Homo sapiens: one gene and its partners. The protein of the gene in region 1 interacts with the protein of each later gene in a pairwise test. Each region holds a gene or a part of one and is shown in the gene's direction. Other genes may lie near its edges.

Region 1 (2,921 bases):
CTGTGGAGCACTCATACCGAAAGGCAGAAGAGGGTGGGGAAGGGGCGACTGTCCCATCTGCCGCTGCCACCACCACTGAGGTAGTGACTGAGGTGGAGCTGCTCCTCTACAAGTGCTCTGAGTGCTCCCAGCTCTTCCAGCTGCCGGCGGATTTCCTGGAGCACCAGGCCACTCACTTCCCTGCTCCTGTACCCGAGTCTCAGGAGCCTGCCTTACAGCAGGAGGTGCAGGCCTCGTCACCTGCAGAGGTGCCTGTGTCTCAGCCTGACCCCTTGCCAGCTTCTGACCACAGTTACGAGCTGCGCAATGGTGAAGCCATTGGGCGGGATCGCCGGGGGCGCAGGGCCCGGAGGAACAACAGTGGAGAAGCAGGCGGGGCAGCCACACAGGAGCTCTTCTGCTCAGCCTGTGACCAGCTCTTTCTCTCACCCCACCAGCTACAGCAGCACCTGCGGAGTCACCGGGAGGGCGTCTTTAAGTGCCCCCTGTGCAGTCGTGTCTTCCCTAGCCCTTCCAGTCTGGACCAGCACCTTGGAGACCATAGCAGCGAGTCACACTTCCTGTGTGTAGACTGTGGCCTGGCCTTCGGCACAGAGGCCCTCCTCCTGGCCCACCGGCGAGCCCACACCCCGAATCCTCTGCATTCATGTCCATGTGGGAAGACCTTTGTCAACCTTACCAAGTTCCTTTATCACCGGCGTACTCATGGGGTAGGGGGTGTCCCTCTGCCCACAACACCAGTCCCACCAGAGGAACCTGTCATTGGTTTCCCTGAGCCAGCCCCAGCAGAGACTGGAGAGCCAGAGGCCCCTGAGCCCCCTGTGTCTGAGGAGACCTCAGCAGGGCCCGCTGCCCCAGGCACCTACCGCTGCCTCCTGTGCAGCCGTGAATTTGGAAAGGCCTTGCAGCTGACCCGGCACCAACGTTTTGTGCATCGGCTGGAGCGGCGCCATAAATGCAGCATTTGTGGCAAGATGTTCAAGAAGAAGTCTCACGTGCGTAACCACCTGCGCACACACACAGGGGAGCGGCCCTTCCCCTGCCCTGACTGCTCCAAGCCCTTCAACTCACCTGCCAACCTGGCCCGCCACCGGCTCACACACACAGGAGAGCGGCCCTACCGGTGTGGGGACTGTGGCAAGGCTTTCACGCAAAGCTCCACACTGAGGCAGCACCGCTTGGTGCATGCCCAGCACTTCCCCTACCGCTGCCAGGAATGTGGGGTGCGTTTTCACCGTCCTTACCGCCTGCTCATGCACCGCTACCATCACACAGGTGAATACCCCTACAAGTGTCGCGAGTGCCCCCGCTCCTTCTTGCTGCGTCGGCTGCTGGAGGTGCACCAGCTCGTGGTCCATGCCGGGCGCCAGCCCCACCGCTGCCCATCCTGTGGGGCTGCCTTCCCCTCCTCACTGCGGCTCCGGGAGCACCGCTGTGCAGCCGCTGCTGCCCAGGCCCCACGGCGCTTTGAGTGTGGCACCTGTGGCAAGAAAGTGGGCTCAGCTGCTCGACTGCAGGCACACGAGGCGGCCCATGCAGCTGCTGGGCCTGGAGAGGTCCTGGCTAAGGAGCCCCCTGCCCCTCGAGCCCCACGGGCCACTCGTGCACCAGTTGCCTCTCCAGCAGCCCTTGGAAGCACTGCTACAGCATCCCCTGCGGCCCCTGCCCGCCGCCGGGGTCTAGAGTGCAGCGAGTGCAAGAAGCTGTTCAGCACAGAGACGTCACTGCAGGTGCACCGGCGCATCCACACAGGTGAGCGGCCATACCCATGTCCAGACTGTGGCAAAGCGTTCCGTCAGAGTACCCACCTGAAAGACCACCGGCGCCTGCACACAGGTGAGCGGCCCTTTGCCTGTGAAGTGTGTGGCAAGGCCTTTGCCATCTCCATGCGCCTGGCAGAACATCGCCGCATCCACACAGGCGAACGACCCTACTCCTGCCCTGACTGTGGCAAGAGCTACCGCTCCTTCTCCAACCTCTGGAAGCACCGCAAGACCCATCAGCAGCAGCATCAGGCAGCTGTGCGGCAGCAGCTGGCAGAGGCGGAGGCTGCCGTTGGCCTGGCCGTCATGGAGACTGCTGTGGAGGCGCTACCCCTGGTGGAAGCCATTGAGATCTACCCTCTGGCCGAGGCTGAGGGGGTCCAGATCAGTGGCTGACTCTGCCCGACTTCCTCTTTGGCACCTCCATTCCCTGTTGCTGAAGGCCCTCCAGCATCCCCTTAAGCATCTGTACATACTGTGTCCCTTCCTCTTCCCATCCCCACCACCTTGTAAGTTCTAAATTGGATTTATTCTCTCGTGAGGGGGGTGCTCTGGGGTCCTTGACACACATAAAGGTGCCCCCCCACCTTCCACCTCTTAGCACTGGTGACCCCAAAAATGAAACCATCAATAAAGACTGAGTTGCCAGCAGTGTGTAGAGTGGAATTTGGGAGTCATGGGTCTTACCTCTCGTGGCTGCATCACCAACACCCAGAAGTGGGCCTGGCAGGTATTAGGGGTAGTAGGAGCTCAGTAAACATTTGCTGGGCTGAAGAGAATGACCTGGTGTTCATGGGCATGGCTCTCATAGCAGGGCCTTCACTTCACTGCTAGATGGAGGTAGCATGGCTCTCTTGCCACTAGAGGTCCCATGGCTCTGTGGAAAAGCTCAAGAGTGTTTGTACTGGTGGCAGGAACTTTCAGAGAAATCAGATTTTTACACTCCTGTCCCTGACTCCTGGCCTGATGTGGACCTTGTCTCCCAAGGCCATCTGATTTTCTCATTGATCCCCAAGAGCAAATGCAGGTAGGCATGATCTCTAGAGCTGTGGAATTAAAGGAGATTCTGAATAATATGTGTCTGGATGTAGGAAGATTCATGAGAGGTGGTGACTTGAATTCCCCTGGAGTTGGACTTTGGCTCAGCCAACAGATTTT
Region 2 (7,533 bases), on another chromosome or scaffold:
GAGGGGCACACAGGCAGCACTGTGCGGAGAAAGGCCTCCAGGTGAGAGCTGCATGCTCCGTTTTGGAAGTGGAGTGCTGGGTGGTTTGGGACAGGTGTGGTCTGGGAAGTGGCGGAGGCCGAGCGTGTAGCGTCTCCTCACTTGCAGGCTATGGGAACCGGCAGAGGGGAACACGTGCGCAGGGGCCTGCAGAAGCAGGATGTTATCTGGGCCGAACTGCAAGGGACGGGTGGTGGGAAGGGCAGGGAGGGAGGCCTGGCAGGACCCTGGGCCAGGGCAGTGGAGGCCCGTGGTGGGTGGGAGTGGGAGTCCGGTTGCCGCACGCTGCACGTGGCTGCACAAAGCCTCCTTCCCTCTGGCTCTCCCGCTTCCTTTTCTTCCTAGGCCATCTGAGTGAGGATCCCCGGTTTCCAAAGCTTCAGTGGCCCACTCCGGACCTCTGCCCAGCCTGCCATGAGGAAATTAAGGGCCTGGCCAGCTGGGATGAAGGCCACGTGCTCACATTCTTGAAGCAGCACTATGGCCGCGACAACCTCTTAGACACGTATTCCGCAGACCAGGGGGATTCCAGTGAAGGAGGAACCCTGGCCAGGGGTGAGGAAGAGGAGAAAAGACTCACTCCCCCAGAGGTGTCCCATGGAGACCGAGACACCCAGAGCGTCCGTCCACCTGGTGCACTGGGCCCCAGGCCTGCCCTTCCAGAGAGCTTGCATCACAGCTTGGACGGGAAACTCCAGAGTCTGGATGGGCCCGGGGCCCACAAGGAGGTGGGCGGGGCCGCACCCTTCCTCGGGGTTGACTTCTCCAGCCTGGACATGAGTCTCTGTGTCGTGCTGTACGTGGCTTCATCCCTGTTCCTCATGGTGATGTACTTCTTCTTCCGGGTGAGGTCCAGGCGGTGGAAGGTCAAGCACCACCACCCGGCCGTGTGAGTGCCCGGGTGCTGCCAGCCACGGCGGAAGCTCCCTTGGAGGCAGCCCTGCCCCGTGCCACCTGCAGCTTTAATATTTATGATCAGGGATTTTATAAACATGCGGGCCTGGTTTCACATCGGATGGCACCTTTTGGCTTCAAAGTCCTGGTTTTACAAACGCTCTTCTAACAAGGGAAGAACACGGGGTAATTTTGTGGGGATATTTGCATTCCTGGCGTACTCAAGTCTGTTCATGCTCCTTTTGCAGGTCTTACAGCAAAAAGACTTCTGTATTTTTACTCTTCTAGATGTGAAAAGAGGGTGCAGAGTCCAGGCCAGATAGTCTTCCCCACACACTTTCATCTCGTTTCCTCCACTCCGCCCCATCCTGCAGGGCCTTGTTTTTGTATTTGGAGAACCTCGCCCATCCCCCCCGCGGCTCCTGGCTCCCCCCCACTCCCCTCGCTCCCCCTCCCCCCGCTCCCCCCACGCCCCCTGCTCCAGGCTGCCAAGTGTTTTCCTTTAGCCGGGCGGGGACAGACAGAGCCGGAAGCGCAGTCGGCCTCTGCAGCCCCTCCAAGCAAGTGCTCCAGGGACTATCCTGTGTTTGTAGCTGCTTCCCTAGGGCAGGTTCCTGAGGGCTCTCCTTGTTCCTCCGGGTGTTCGACACCAGACGTGGGGATTTCAACAGGGGAGGAGCCAAGGAATTCTGTGGCTGTGCTGCGTTTCAGAAAATAACCCCCAGAGGCCTTGGGCTGTGGACCTGGGGGTTGGAAGGATGGGGGCTCATTTAACCCTCAGAGGCAGCGCCTTTGTCTGTCTATCTGGTGACAAGAGAGAGACAAGTAAATGGGGGCCGTTGGGACGGCGGGTGCCTGGAGGGCAGCTCTGGGCTCAGCGGGCAGTGCTTAGAGCACAGGCCCCTCTGTTGGGGGATGGGGAGGAGAGCAGTCTGCCCTTGGGAGCGTAGGCCCCAGGGAGACTTCTAAAGCCCCCCCTGTCGTCTGCTCTTCACCCAGCACCACAGAGGCACCTGCTGCACACACAAGCATCTCACTCGGCCCACGGAGGGGGCCAGGCTTCCTTTGCCTGAAGCTGTTTTGGGAAGGGTCTCCACACAGGCACTGATCTCCCAAGCTTTTGTCATGATGTCTTTTACCATTTGATAATTTTAAACATTGTTTTTAAACCCAAAACATTTAGTGGTCCGTTGCCTCTGAAGATGTAAACAAACAAATACACTATTTCTGGGAACATTTATATTGAGATTCTTTGTGGCTATTGGTGTGTCTCACAGGCAAAATTTGATTTGGCTAAAATAGGCTCAGATGTATTTGTGTGCCCGTGTGTGTGTGTGTGTGTGTGTGTGTGTGTGTGTGTGTATGAGAGAGAGAGAGACTTTGACGGTTGTAGATATTTTTTCCGCTTTGCCTACTTTATGTTGTATAATCATGTGTTTACTAACAAGTTGATGACATGGATGTATTCATAAGACCATGTAATATTGATGTGATTGTTGTCGCTTGAGAAAAAAAGGCAACAGCTGATTCTTTCAACAACTGTCACAGAATGGCTGGGCTGAGAACGCTGCCCAGGGCCCTGCAGCTGGCGGGAGAGGTGTCTGGTGGGAGCGGTGTCTGGTGCGTCAGCCTGCTGCTTCGTGTCTCACTCGAGAGTTGCTTCTGGTTTCACACTTTTTAACCCCTCTGTGCTTTAGCAGCCGTGACCTTGCCTTCATTGCTTCATCCAGTGCAGGCCTGGGTTATTGAAGACACCAAAGTGTTTCTCTTCCAGTTTGAAAACCAGGCAGGTTTACACGTGGGTTTCAGTGTATTTGCCTTTGAACCCTTCAAACTAAACTTTAGCCTTTTGGCTGGTGTTGAATGTCTTTAGCTGGGGTGACCTGGAGTGACCTGGGACGGTGTTGTGGTTTACCGTCTCCAGCTTCAGCCTTTCCAGAAACCCTTGTGGAGGGCAGTGTTGGCTGCAGGTTTCATCATATTGCAGTTTGAGGTCACCACTATTTGGGGAACAAGCTTGCGTCCTGCTGAGGGGCAGGATTTTCAGCAGAGCGTCGGTGGGGCTGGGCCGTCGTGGAGGTGGCCCCAGGAGTCATATGGCCATACTCAGACACACCTTGTGTGGCCTGCTCAGAGCTGGATGCCACCTTTAGGCAATGTTTAGAGTCTATTTTCTAAAGTTTTAAGTATTTTAAGAGGTATTGAGACTAATGAATATAATAGTTCAGTAATTTAAATGCTTATTTATTTTCAGTGGAAGGATTTTTATTAAAAAGAAGCTAATTGACATGGAAATGTCAGTGAAATTTCTTACCTGCAAGGAAAGTGAACATTTTGTATTTAAGTAAACTATAATGTGCACATTTTAATAAAGAAATCTGACATTTGAAAAAATGGTGATTCTTTTGAAATGTGAACCAGCTCTACCAGTGGGAGTTGTGGTAGAGGCGGTGGGTGCAGAATGGACCCCTCTTTTGTTCACGTACTGGACATCTGAAATCCTAGAGTTTCTCCTATCGAATCATTGGCTTTTGGGACACAGCCCAAGGGTCGGATGGAAAGTAGAAGATGGAAAGCAGTGATAGATCATCTCCCTGGAGCTGATCTGGACGAGACTCACAGGACAAGACCCTTGATTTTACACAGGTTAAAGGGCAGCTGAGATGCATGTCAGCTACACACTTCAAAGAGCACGCGCGGCAGCCCAGCCTGAGGGCACCTCAGAGGACCCCCAGCTTGCTTGAGTGGCCATCCCTCTGCTTCCTGGGTGTGAGTGTCCTGCTAAGGCTGTTTGTGGTGTTCTGTGGGGTGCCCTTGACCCCGTGTTGTCTTCTGCCCCTCCCCTACTTTTGCTGTGCCAGTGGGGGCAGGGCAGTGGTCAACAGTCTTGCCTGTGGCTGTGGAGGAAGCCGGTTGGCACCTCCCTGGCCAGGCTGTGCAGAGGCTGGCAGTAACTCAGTCACTCGTCAGGCACCGAGCAGACACCAGCCTGGGTGTGTACTGGGCGATTCCTTCAGGCCCTGCCTATGCCCAAGGTCTTGAGTCCTCAGCAGTGCTTTTGTTACAGGGGACTGCAGGTGCCTCTCCTCCTGGCAGCCCGGAGGGGTGCGGGCTGAGCTCCTCCCAGAAGTTGGGGGTTGAGTTCAAGGAGGTTAAGAGTGGAAAGTTCCCTGACCAGCAAAACACCTGCAGGAGAGTGCCCCAGTGAGCCCTGGGCTGGAGTTGATCACGCATGGGGCTGCCCCGGGGCACGGCCTGGGCACTGCCTTCCAGAGGCTGCACGCCAGAAGGGTAGGGTCAGTGTCCTCCTGCCCTGCGGCTGGACGACCCGCTTGCTGCGAAACTCGGCGAATCCCAGCGCCTCAGCAGGGCCTGGAGCTTAGGGAGGAGCGGGCACGGCCACCCTGGGTCTCAGAGGGGTGAGGGCGGGGGCTGCCTTGAGTGCGGCCCAACCCAGCCAGGGAGGGAGGCGCGCCCGACACGGGGCAGAGGCGGGGGTGGGGACCGGGGCGACGAGAGGGGCCCCGGGAGGTGGGCGGGCGCGCGGGCGGGGCGGGCAGCGGGCGCCTCCTTCAGCACCGCGGACAGCGCCAGGCCCAGTGGCTCCCGGGCTCCCTGCCCCGCACGACGCGGCGGGACTTGGGAGCCCCGAACCCTCCAGGGGACGCTGACCTAGGAGGAGCGCGTCTCGCGCCACTCGGCCTGGTGGCCGCGATGCTGCTGGAAACGGGGCTCGAGCGCGACCGAGCGAGGCCCGGGGCCGCCGCCGTCTGCACCTTGGGCGGGACTCGGGGTAAGCCCCAGCAGGACACTGAGGACAGAAACGGCAAGGGCGGCAGAGGCGCGAGGAAGGGGGTGCGTGCAGGGCCAGCGGCCAGGCAAAGAAAGTCCCGCCGCTCTGCAGGCGGGACACAGAGATGGAAACTGCAGAGAGTGAGTTTCCAGATCCCAGGGTGGCGGGGAGGGCCTGACGCTGGCCTGCAAGAGTGCGGGACAGCGGTTGGAGTGGAGGCCCCTAGAAAAAAAGGGGGCATCGCAGGCACAGCTGGGGGGCGATGGGGCCGACCAAGGGGTGCTAGGTTCCCCCGGTGACCAGTGCCCGTCAGCTCTTGCACACAGCCCGGCCCAGGTCTCTGGACCCCACAGCAGGGGACCCAAGCCTGTGTCTCCCGCCTGAACCACCCTCCCCAAGGGCCATTCCATCACCACGGACGCTGGGAAATAATGGAGGCATTGTTGGAGGGCTGGCCAGATGCCAGCAGGGTGGGCCGCCTCCTTAACCTGCCGCCGCCCCTTCCCCAGTCCTGCCACACACGACCCCTGATCGCTTCGGCAGCAGCTGACACTCAGCCACCTGCACCCAGCACAGCCCGCACACACTCGGCTTTGCACCCGCGTGTCCTTGCCCTGGCCCTTCTTGGGTAACAAGTGCTGTGCAAAGTGAAGGGGCAGAAAGCTGGCTGCATGGGCCACTGCTCAAAACGGACACATCGGACCTGCTGGGAGCTAGGAGGGAGGGACTGTGGTTTCTTGTGCCCATCCTTCTGGGCCTGGGCCCTTAAAGCTCACAGTCCAGAAGCCATAGGCAGAGTGGACAGAGTATTGCTGTGAGACCCACAGGGAGAGGGACCTGCAGGATGGCATCAGCCCCTGGTCCCCCAACCCTTCCTGTGTGTTTCTGCGCACTGCCAGGGCACCCCTGCCTTTGCCAAGTCCTGTGCTGCCGAGGGCCACCCACTGCTGTGTTCTTCCCCGGGTGGCTGCCCAGGGCTGGTGCTGGCCCAGGGCCCTCTGGGCAGGGGTGGGTGCGTCCCTCTGCCTGCAAGGACAGGTGGGTTCTGGAGAGCTCACCTGTGTGGACTGGGGCAAGAGGCTGAAATATCAGGTAAGGGACCGTGTTCCAATGGAGCCGGAGTGCTGGGGGCTGGAAATGGAAGGTGTGCCCTGGGGCTTCCCCAGCTCGGCCCCTCACGACCCGAGGTCTTGGCTGCGTGTCCAGGACACAGAGCCTGTTCTCTCTCAAGGATTGCCCTTCCTCCCTGAGCCGTCCGGGGCCGCAGTTCCAGGGGTGGAGCCCAGAAGCCTGTTAGCATCTGGGATCGGTCCGGCACCTTGCGGTTCCGGTACGCAGCCCTCGGCGCCACACTCACCCCTTCTGCGTTTCGGGTTGAGCTCCCGCCGACCATCTGCTGCTCCCGAGGCCAAACCTCAGCGGCGGGAGGACCCTGCTGCCTTCTCGACCCCTCTCCCGGGAACCTTAGCCCTCCTGGCGTGTGCTCCAGCTCAGGCCTCTGCCTCTGGGCCGCTCCGGCGCAGGAAGCTGCGGGGCCGGGACGAACGCTGGCGGGAAGCCCTGACCTGGGCCCTCCCTTACCGGTGCCCGCCCTCGGGCCGGGCACGCGGGGCGGCCTCTGGGCACCGCAGGTCCCGGCGCAAAGGCGCTCAGAGTCCGCAGTGGCCCGGGCTGGTCTCCGCGACCCCCGGCCCCGCCCCGCCCCGCGGCCCCGCCCCCCGGCCGCTCCGCCCTCCGCTCGGCCAGAGGCTCCGGGCCCCAGGGCGGCCCGCGGGCGCAGCGCCCAGCAGCACCCGGAGTCGCTTGGACGCCGGTTCGGGGCTATTGCGGGGTGGCGTCGCTGGGCCCGGGAAAGTTCGGGACTGGAGAGTGGCGACGCCGGGCGGCGGGACCCATGGAGGCGCGCGGGGAGCTGGGCCCGGCCCGGGAGTCGGCGGGAGGCGACCTGCTGCTAGCACTGCTGGCGCGGAGGGCGGACCTGCGCCGAGGTGGGTGCCCGGGCCGAGTGGCTGCACCGGGGAGACCAGGAGATCCTCAGGCCTTTCCGGGCCTGGCCGCGGAGGCTGGCAGGAGCTAGAGGATCTGGGCGGGAGTGGGCGCGAGGACCCCGGAACGTCCGCGCCTGGGCGCCTCAGCCTGTATTTGTTGCAGGGCCCCTGGCCTGGGTTGTCAGGGAGTGAGTGAGGTTGTGGCACTGCGCTGCTCCGGCCAGGGAGCTCTCGGGGGTCCAGGGTGGGCTTAGGAGACCTCTGCAGCCCGGAGCCAGCTCCCTGGGCTGGAGGAGGCGCAGGGAGCAGTGGCGGGGCAGTGACCACGGGACAGGAGGGTCCCCAAGAAGGCCGCCCCAGCCGGACTCTTTCCACGTTCCAGCGGAACAGAGTCAGATGCAGGGGCCAAGGTCGAGCTGAACTCCGACCGTCGGTCTCCCCGAAGTCAGGTTTCAGCGTCTGCGCCCACAGACACCCGCTCGGTTTATCCCCGCTCAGGGCCCGTCTGTAGGAAAAAGCCTCTCTTCTCCAGGCCCCCCAGCTTCCTGGTGGCACCACTCTAGCTCCCAGCACTTTGGTTCTTAGGGAACCTGGGCAGTTCTCCTCGACTCCCGGGCCAGCTGGAGCCGCAGGATGGGGAAGGAGGCCCCGGAGCCAGTGGGGAGTGAGAGGGACCGGCCGGCGGGAAGGGGGTTACATCCAGGCTGTGGGGGCTCGCGGTTCCCTACTTATTTATTTATTTTTCGACGGTTCCTGGGAGGGGTTGGCCGCGGGGGCTGGGGGGCGGAGAGAGGGAGGGAGGAAGGAGGACTGCGCGCC
Region 3 (7,034 bases), on another chromosome or scaffold:
AGAACACAATTATAAAAGGCTGGGCTTTTTTTTTTTTTTTTCCTTTTTACCTCTATCATTTAGTGTGAAGCTTTCAGAGTTCATCCTGCTTTTTTGGAAAGAGAAGCTGAGACTTGGGCCTTTCTCTCCCTTTTATTGTCATTATTGCTCCTGGAAGTTAATGACTTTAAGCACATTGAGGGCTCACCCAAGTTTAGAGTGAGGGTTGGCCTTGACATTCTTATTCCACTCGCCACCAAGACTCCCTATGGCCTCAGATCCCGTAGTCCATCTCGGAGGACAGATCACTCTGTGCCTGTGGACAGAAAGCCTGGGGAAATGTCTGCTGGCTTATGGAAGCCTAGAGAGTTTTCCTGGGACTCTCAGGAACAGGATTTTTGGTGTCATACGCTTTATAATTTTATGCTTGTAACATTGTGTGTGTGTTCATGTAATTATGTGTGTCTGTGTGTGTGTATGTCTGCACACCTGCCTGTGAACATACTGGGGGTAACACACTCTAATGCCTTCAGGTTGGGTAGGCAGCCCCACAGGCCCAGGTCAGTGAGGAGTGGTGGCCCTCCGACAAACTGGAGAGTGCATGCCCTGCCTTGAGCCCACAAATCCTATTTTTAAAATGCTGCAGGCCAAAACCCCCAAATCTATGACCCATATATGGTCTGAGAGCTACTTATTTGCCTTCCCTCTTACCATAATATCACTATTGGCAGTGATGTAACACCTGGAATCTGAGGGCCAGCATATAATTTTGTATACATTCCCGAAGTATATTTATTTTGCTCATTAGAATAACTGTATTTTTTTAAAAAGGGAAGCACAGTTACTTGGTGTGAATTTAGCAAAGTGCACAAATACATTAGGAGCAAGGCCTGTGGGGTCTAAAGCAGCAGTTCTAAACTCAGCTGTGCAGAATCCTAGGGCTCTGCAGAGTCTCCCCCAAAGGGTCCTGAAAGGAACACTGCAGGGAATGGCCAAGTATGGGCTTAGCCCTCTCCACACCTCCCCTCATTCTTCAGATAAAGCAGCCCCACTTCTCTAAATCTGTTCTTTGTATTGGAGGGGATACAAGAAAGGGGTAAAACATGGGCTGTGGAGCAGCCTTCCTGGGCTTGAACTTGAACCCCCTCTCAACTAGACATGGGACTTGGGCAAGTTACTAACCTCTCTGTATCTCATTGGTAGATTAACTACAGCATTAGAATAGTGCCTGGCTATTATACATTGAGCTTAGTAGTATGCCTGTATTTAATTTCCTACCCCTCACATAAGAGTTTTGCATTGGTTCTTGTAGAAGAACAACAGATACAGGATTATTATGTTCCACATGGCTCCCACAAGGCTGCAATGAAAGTCCTGAATCAAGGACTCTAAGATCAAATGACTCTTGTGGTCATCTGGCTTGACCAGGGCAGGAATCCTTCCCATGTCATCCTGGTGAAGAGCCCACGTGCTGCACTCAAAACATGCCGAGCAGTTGCCTTTCCCTACCAGAGAAGGGCTGTTCCATCCATAGTGGATGTAAACATGTGTTTGTATAATATCATTTTAATTGGGCAAATGATGTTAGAGTAATAACAAAAGAATTATTTTCAAAGATTTTAAGTTTTATCCACATCAAATATTTTTATGTCTTACATTCTGTTTTAGATCTTGTCATTGTACATACATAATTCTACCATTTTAACAATAATCATTCAAGTTTACTTAATAGTTATCCAGCTTACTTTCTATTTTATTCTCATATTATAAACATTTTCTATTTTTCTAAAGAGGTGTCATAATGATCCATTTTAATGACTATGCAATATTTCATCTAGTTTAGTACTGTAATAAGCTATTTTCAATATTTATGTATTTTGAAACAATACATGTTTTTATGCAGTTATCTTATTTCCTTTTGAATAATATCTTCAAGCTATATCCTAGGAGTATATTCTGAGTTAAAGGGGGATAAATATTTTTGCAGCTCTTGATAATCTATTTCTAAATTGCTTTCCAAAAGGATTATGCTAGTGTACATGTCCCCCAGCCATAGATCTGCATAATGGTGTCAATACAGACTTTCCAGCATTGAGTAAATTTTCTACATTATTTTTGTTAATTTAAAAGTCAAAAGTAGTATTTCGTTGCTCTTTTTGAATCAAAAAATCCCACTGATCCCAATGAGTTCTTTCTGGAACAACAGAGAATAAATTAGCTGAGAGCTTCAAATATATGAAGATAGGATCAAATGGAAACTCAATGGAAGAGTAGCATATAAACGTAAGTTATTACTTGTAAAGATATTTGAGTTCCTCACAAGAAGTCCAAACCAAATGAAATTTTCCAAAGAAATCAATGAAATGCAACTTTGAAAATTTTTTTCTACCAATCATTTTTTTTTAATGAGATAGGGCATGTTTTTTGGTACTTCTTCGGGAACTTTCTGACCCTACTTAAGTGGAAAGAAGATGTTTTTAAAACCCATGCCTTGGTTCCACAGGAAAGTGAGCTAGCTGTATCTGTTTCCTTGCAGCCACTTCTGACGGCACAGCAGTTAGCTTCTGCTGTGGCCGGCGTGATGCCGGGAGGCCCCCCAGCCCTCAACCAGCCAATCCTCATTCCCTTCAACATGGCGGGACAGCTAGGAGGCCAGCAAGGACTGGTTCTCACACTGCCAACAGCGAATCTCACCAACATCCAAGGGCTGGTGGCAGCAGCTGCAGCCGGAGGCATTATGACTCTGCCACTGCAAAATCTACAAGGTAATCCATAATGTCCATGCGCCACGTAAGGCTCTACCCGTTGGCCAGTATTCTCTGAAGTGGGCAAAAAAAAATGTGCCTAGAATGGTGAATGTGGTTCAGAGTTGCTTCTGCCCTAAATGATATGGAAGGCTTCCACAGGAAGCAAAATTTTCAGTTGTCTGTGAATCCTGAGCCTGCACAAGCCATTGGTTTTATCAATCCTCATTTCCTAACATTGGTATCAAAACTTTTCAGGACTCCTGGAAGCATTTATGAGTCATCATTGCATGACATATCAGAAACTTAAAAGTAAAATTCCTGTGTTGTTATTTGAAGACCTGAGTTATCATCTCACCAATTCTTCAATTTAGCCATGGGTAAAGAAAAGTTAGAGGTTGCTTTTTTGTGTTTGAAGTGATTGGAACATCTCAAATACAAGATATTATTTGGAATAATTTATTAATGATTATTTTGCTCTACAAAGTATGTTTTAGTTATAGTTATTAAACAAAAATTGTGTTATTTGAGCTCATATTTTGCAATGAGAAAAATAGACTTGTATGTTGAGCCTTTATACTACAGGGACATATAACAAGTCAGACTCTAATTTTACTTAGGAAGGGTAGTTGTCTTGATATTATGAAGGTTTTGACTTTTCTTTAAAAGATTTGGTAGCATTGACTGATAGATTGATTTACAAAAGATTCTGTCAGAGGAGTAATTATTTTGGTGGAAAATGACCTGAATATAAATAGGATGCCTGCTAAAGAGAAAATGAATTTATTTTGGACTAGTCAAAGATGTTTGTTTTCTTCATATATATATAAAATTAACAATTAAAATTTTTGCAGAATGAGGGCCTGTCTGGGTAAGTTATCAGAATAGCAATTTAAAATACTTTTTTAGCTGGTCAAATGTTAGGGCTTCATATAATTTATCGGAGAATCAGTCCACAAGACTAAGAAACAGACCAAGTAAGAACTGTTCACTCTTGACCCAAACTTCTTTCCGTTCTCTATGTTCTGTTACCCCACCCATTGTTGCCACTTCTTGACTTCCATTTTGATGTTTAAAACGAAGTCTCTCTTGTACCATTAAATTGTGCCAAGAAACCTGCCATTCATAAATCATGCATGCCCAGGATACGCTAATGCACAAACTTTGCTTGTTTCAAATTTGAGAGTGCCTGGGAAGCCAGATCTCAAGATTAAGCAAATAAAGCAGGAATACACAAGGTGAAAGCCGAAGCAACAAAGTGTAGGGAGAGGCGTTTTAATGTAGGTGGATGATGAAATCTTAATGAAGAAATGGGCATTATCAAAATGCAGCCTTCCGTTTGGAACATTTGTGCTTATGGGAATATTGAATATTATAAATAAACATAAGCTCAAAGAGCTCCTAGGCCATGAATTAATCCTGCTTGGTTAAGATGGTTGCCAAAAATCAGAGTTTAAAAAAAAAGTAGGCTTGTTATTTCTTGATCATAGTTTGATATTCTTAAGATATTAGTACCTGTTTTTTTAAGGGTTCAAAATTAATGATTGGTCCAACGTGGACTTCTTCCACCAAGATTTTCCCTTTTGTTTTTGTTTGTTGTAAATATCAAAGTTCATTATTAGCGTATAGTTTGGAGTTTGGTTCTTTGAGTCACCTCTGGTTTCAGAAAAGGAATCCCAAGCTTTGTAGCCTGATTAAGTAGGGGAAACAAAAGTTCTTGCTTTTCTTATCCCTGGGCACTTCTGACACAATTTCCCTCTCAGCATCATCTTCAGAAGTGGGTTGGAGTTGACGCCCAAGCTCTTGTCTGCTACACAAGCACAAGTGAACATTTCCCCCTTTGTCTTCCTCTTTGAAATTTGACTGACGTTGGAGGGAAGGTGATGAGGTTATTAGAATAAATCACCTCCCAGTTGCAAATCAGCTGGTTATAGGAAAAGCTTTCTAATTAGTATAAGTCTCAGGTAACCCAGAAAGAGGTGGTCATCCTAACGAGAAGTTCAAGGGCAATAAGGATGGTAATCAGGAAAGTCTCATGCCTCAAAAGTGCCCAAGATAAATGTCCACCACCTAAAGGGCAAAGCCAGTGGTCACCTTGTAATCAATCCACCAGCAGCCATCCCAAAGCTGATTTTCCCACCTTTAGGCGACCTATTGCACAGCCCTTGATAATCCCTAGGCAGAATCAATGGCTTGTGGAGCTTTCCAGGTTATGTTGCAGAAGCAGTGGGACTCGGGATGGTGAGTGAATGTCTGACAGGCTGAAAGGTCATCTGCAGGGGTTCTGAGACTGAGCTAGTCTTCAGGATGACCTCAAATCTCATCCTCTCTCAAAGGTGAGAGTTAAGGGTGAGAGTCTTGTAAATGGACTATCAGTACCTTAGAAGGAATCCTTACATGCATTCATGCAGTCAACAGCGAGGGGAGAAGGCTGTTTCCTTTCCCCCATCTCTTTCCTGTACAATAAATACAGTATTTATCAACCCAAGGCTTTTCAGAGTCTTTAAAAACAACTCTTAAGTCTGCTCGTCTATAATAAACACCCCACTTCTCCAGTGATTTTATAAAACATATTTGGTGGGTCATTGTGAGGGGCAGGTTTCATACCTAGTCTGCACACCTAGTCTGAAGCACAGCCTGTTACCATGTAACATGCTTGGTCATGAATAGTGCCCTTTTCCTCATTGTGAAGTGTTAAGCTTTTATTCATGAAACAGTTCGGCCAACTGGAATTATCTCCAGCCTTCCTACCCAGCCCTCTAGCCTGTCTATTCTTCTAGCTCAAAAGTCACAAATTTGCTAGGATGAAAGGAAAAAAAAAAGTTGCTGACATCAGTCTCTTAATGGTTTGGAATTCAGGGATAAGTTTTCAAATATTTTCCTTTTTACTGAAGTGATTGAGAGCGTGTTCATTTACATCCCCTATCAAGTCACACAGAATAGCTCTCAGAGCCTTGGAGGCCATGATTTACACATGTATTTTAATGAGCACTCATGACATGCTGTTACACTGAGAGCAGCTCTTCTCGACTCTGACAGCGGGGGTCATATCACAATCTCCTCTTAAAACATGGTCCCCAGACCAGCGGCATCAATGTCTCCTGGGAGCTTGCTGGAAATACAGGATCTCAGGCTCTACCCGAGATACCCAAGACTCTCGGAACAGAATCTGCATTTTTAAAAGATCCCCAGATAATCCCCATGCACATTAAAGTTTAAGAAATGCTGATCTAGGGAGATTATTCAAAGTTCATTAGGCAACTCCCTGCCTTAGTCTGTTTGGGCTGCTATAACATAAAAACCATAGGTAGGGTGGTTTATAAACAACAGATTGTATTCCTCACAGTGCTGCAGCCTGGGAAGTCCAGGATCAAGGCACAGGCAGATTTGGTTCTGGTGAAGGCCCACTTCCTGGTTCATAGATGTCTGTCTTTTTACTGTGTCCTCCCACCACAGAAGGTATGAGAGAACTCTCAGGGTTCCTTTTATAAAGGCACTAATTTCGTCATGAGGGCTCCACCCTTATGACCTAATCAACTCCCAGAGGCCTCACCTGCTGATACCATCACCTTGGGGGTTAGGATTTCAACATAAAAACTTGGTGGGTTGGGAGGAACAAACACCCAGTCCATGGCATCCCCCAATATCACCAGCAGCCAGAATCAGAGACTCTTATGACAATGGATGACCCACATGAAGGCAGTGAATGTCCTTATTAATGCTCCCGCTCTCACTCACCACCCCAGGCCTCCAGATGAGAATGACAGAAAGGAATAATGTGTGGGAACGTTTTTGCTTCTGTTAGGAGTTTCATATCCTCAAGACCAAGGGAAGTTCTCTTACATAGTGGAAGCCCTCTTGAAGTCCTTGCTCTGAGATTTTATCCAATGAAAGTTTTGCTTTGCTGATAAAAAGACCTTATAACTCAGCAGAAAACCTGTATGTGTGGCCTGGGAATTATTTTATCTTTCTCTCAGATCCTTCCCAGCAAGAAAGAGATTGATTCCTGTCTCATCAGTGATGAGTTCTTATTGTAAGAAGATACACAGTTGTAAGGAGTTAGACATCTTGCAGGATCCTAGGAACAGCCCTGTAACCCAGCCTCATTGGAACCTGGAATGAATTTGGGCATTAGAGCATCCAGCAAACCACAAGGCTGCAGGCTGTATCATCCTCTCCTCTGCAGGAGGCAGGCATCTAATCCCCACACCCAGAATGACTAATGACCCATCTCCCTGTCTTCTCCTGCGCCCTCCAGGACGTTTCTCTACTGCATTGGATGGCTTTTGGCTGAACCATGATTCCGGTTCA

Evidence for each region. The genes of interacting proteins can lie anywhere in the genome.
Region 2: the proteins of ZNF574 (region 1) and LHX3 interact in binary tests that used the Homo sapiens proteins (3 or more experiments, as listed by UniProt).
Region 3: the proteins of ZNF574 (region 1) and POU6F2 interact in binary tests that used the Homo sapiens proteins (3 or more experiments, as listed by UniProt).

What each region holds. Positions count from the first base shown.
Region 1 is NC_000019.10:42,079,139-42,082,059, forward strand, and holds the end of ZNF574 (zinc finger protein 574), read left to right. Parts: coding exon 1-2,159; 3' UTR 2,160-2,414; downstream 2,415-2,921. UniProt on the Homo sapiens protein: May be involved in transcriptional regulation.
Region 2 is NC_000009.12:136,202,127-136,209,659, reverse strand, and holds the start of LHX3 (LIM/homeobox protein Lhx3), read left to right. Parts: upstream 1-4,531; 5' UTR 4,532-4,647; coding exon 4,648-4,726; intron 4,727-6,470; exon of another isoform or gene 6,471-6,620; coding exon of another isoform or gene 6,621-6,714; intron 6,715-7,533. Other genes in the region: QSOX2 (sulfhydryl oxidase 2 precursor), read left to right, coding at 385-932. UniProt on the Homo sapiens protein: Transcription factor.
Region 3 is NC_000007.14:39,204,877-39,211,910, forward strand, and holds part of POU6F2 (POU domain, class 6, transcription factor 2), read left to right. Parts: intron 1-2,515; coding exon 2,516-2,744; intron 2,745-7,034. UniProt on the Homo sapiens protein: Probable transcription factor likely to be involved in early steps in the differentiation of amacrine and ganglion cells. Recognizes and binds to the DNA sequence 5'-ATGCAAAT-3'. Isoform 1 does not bind DNA.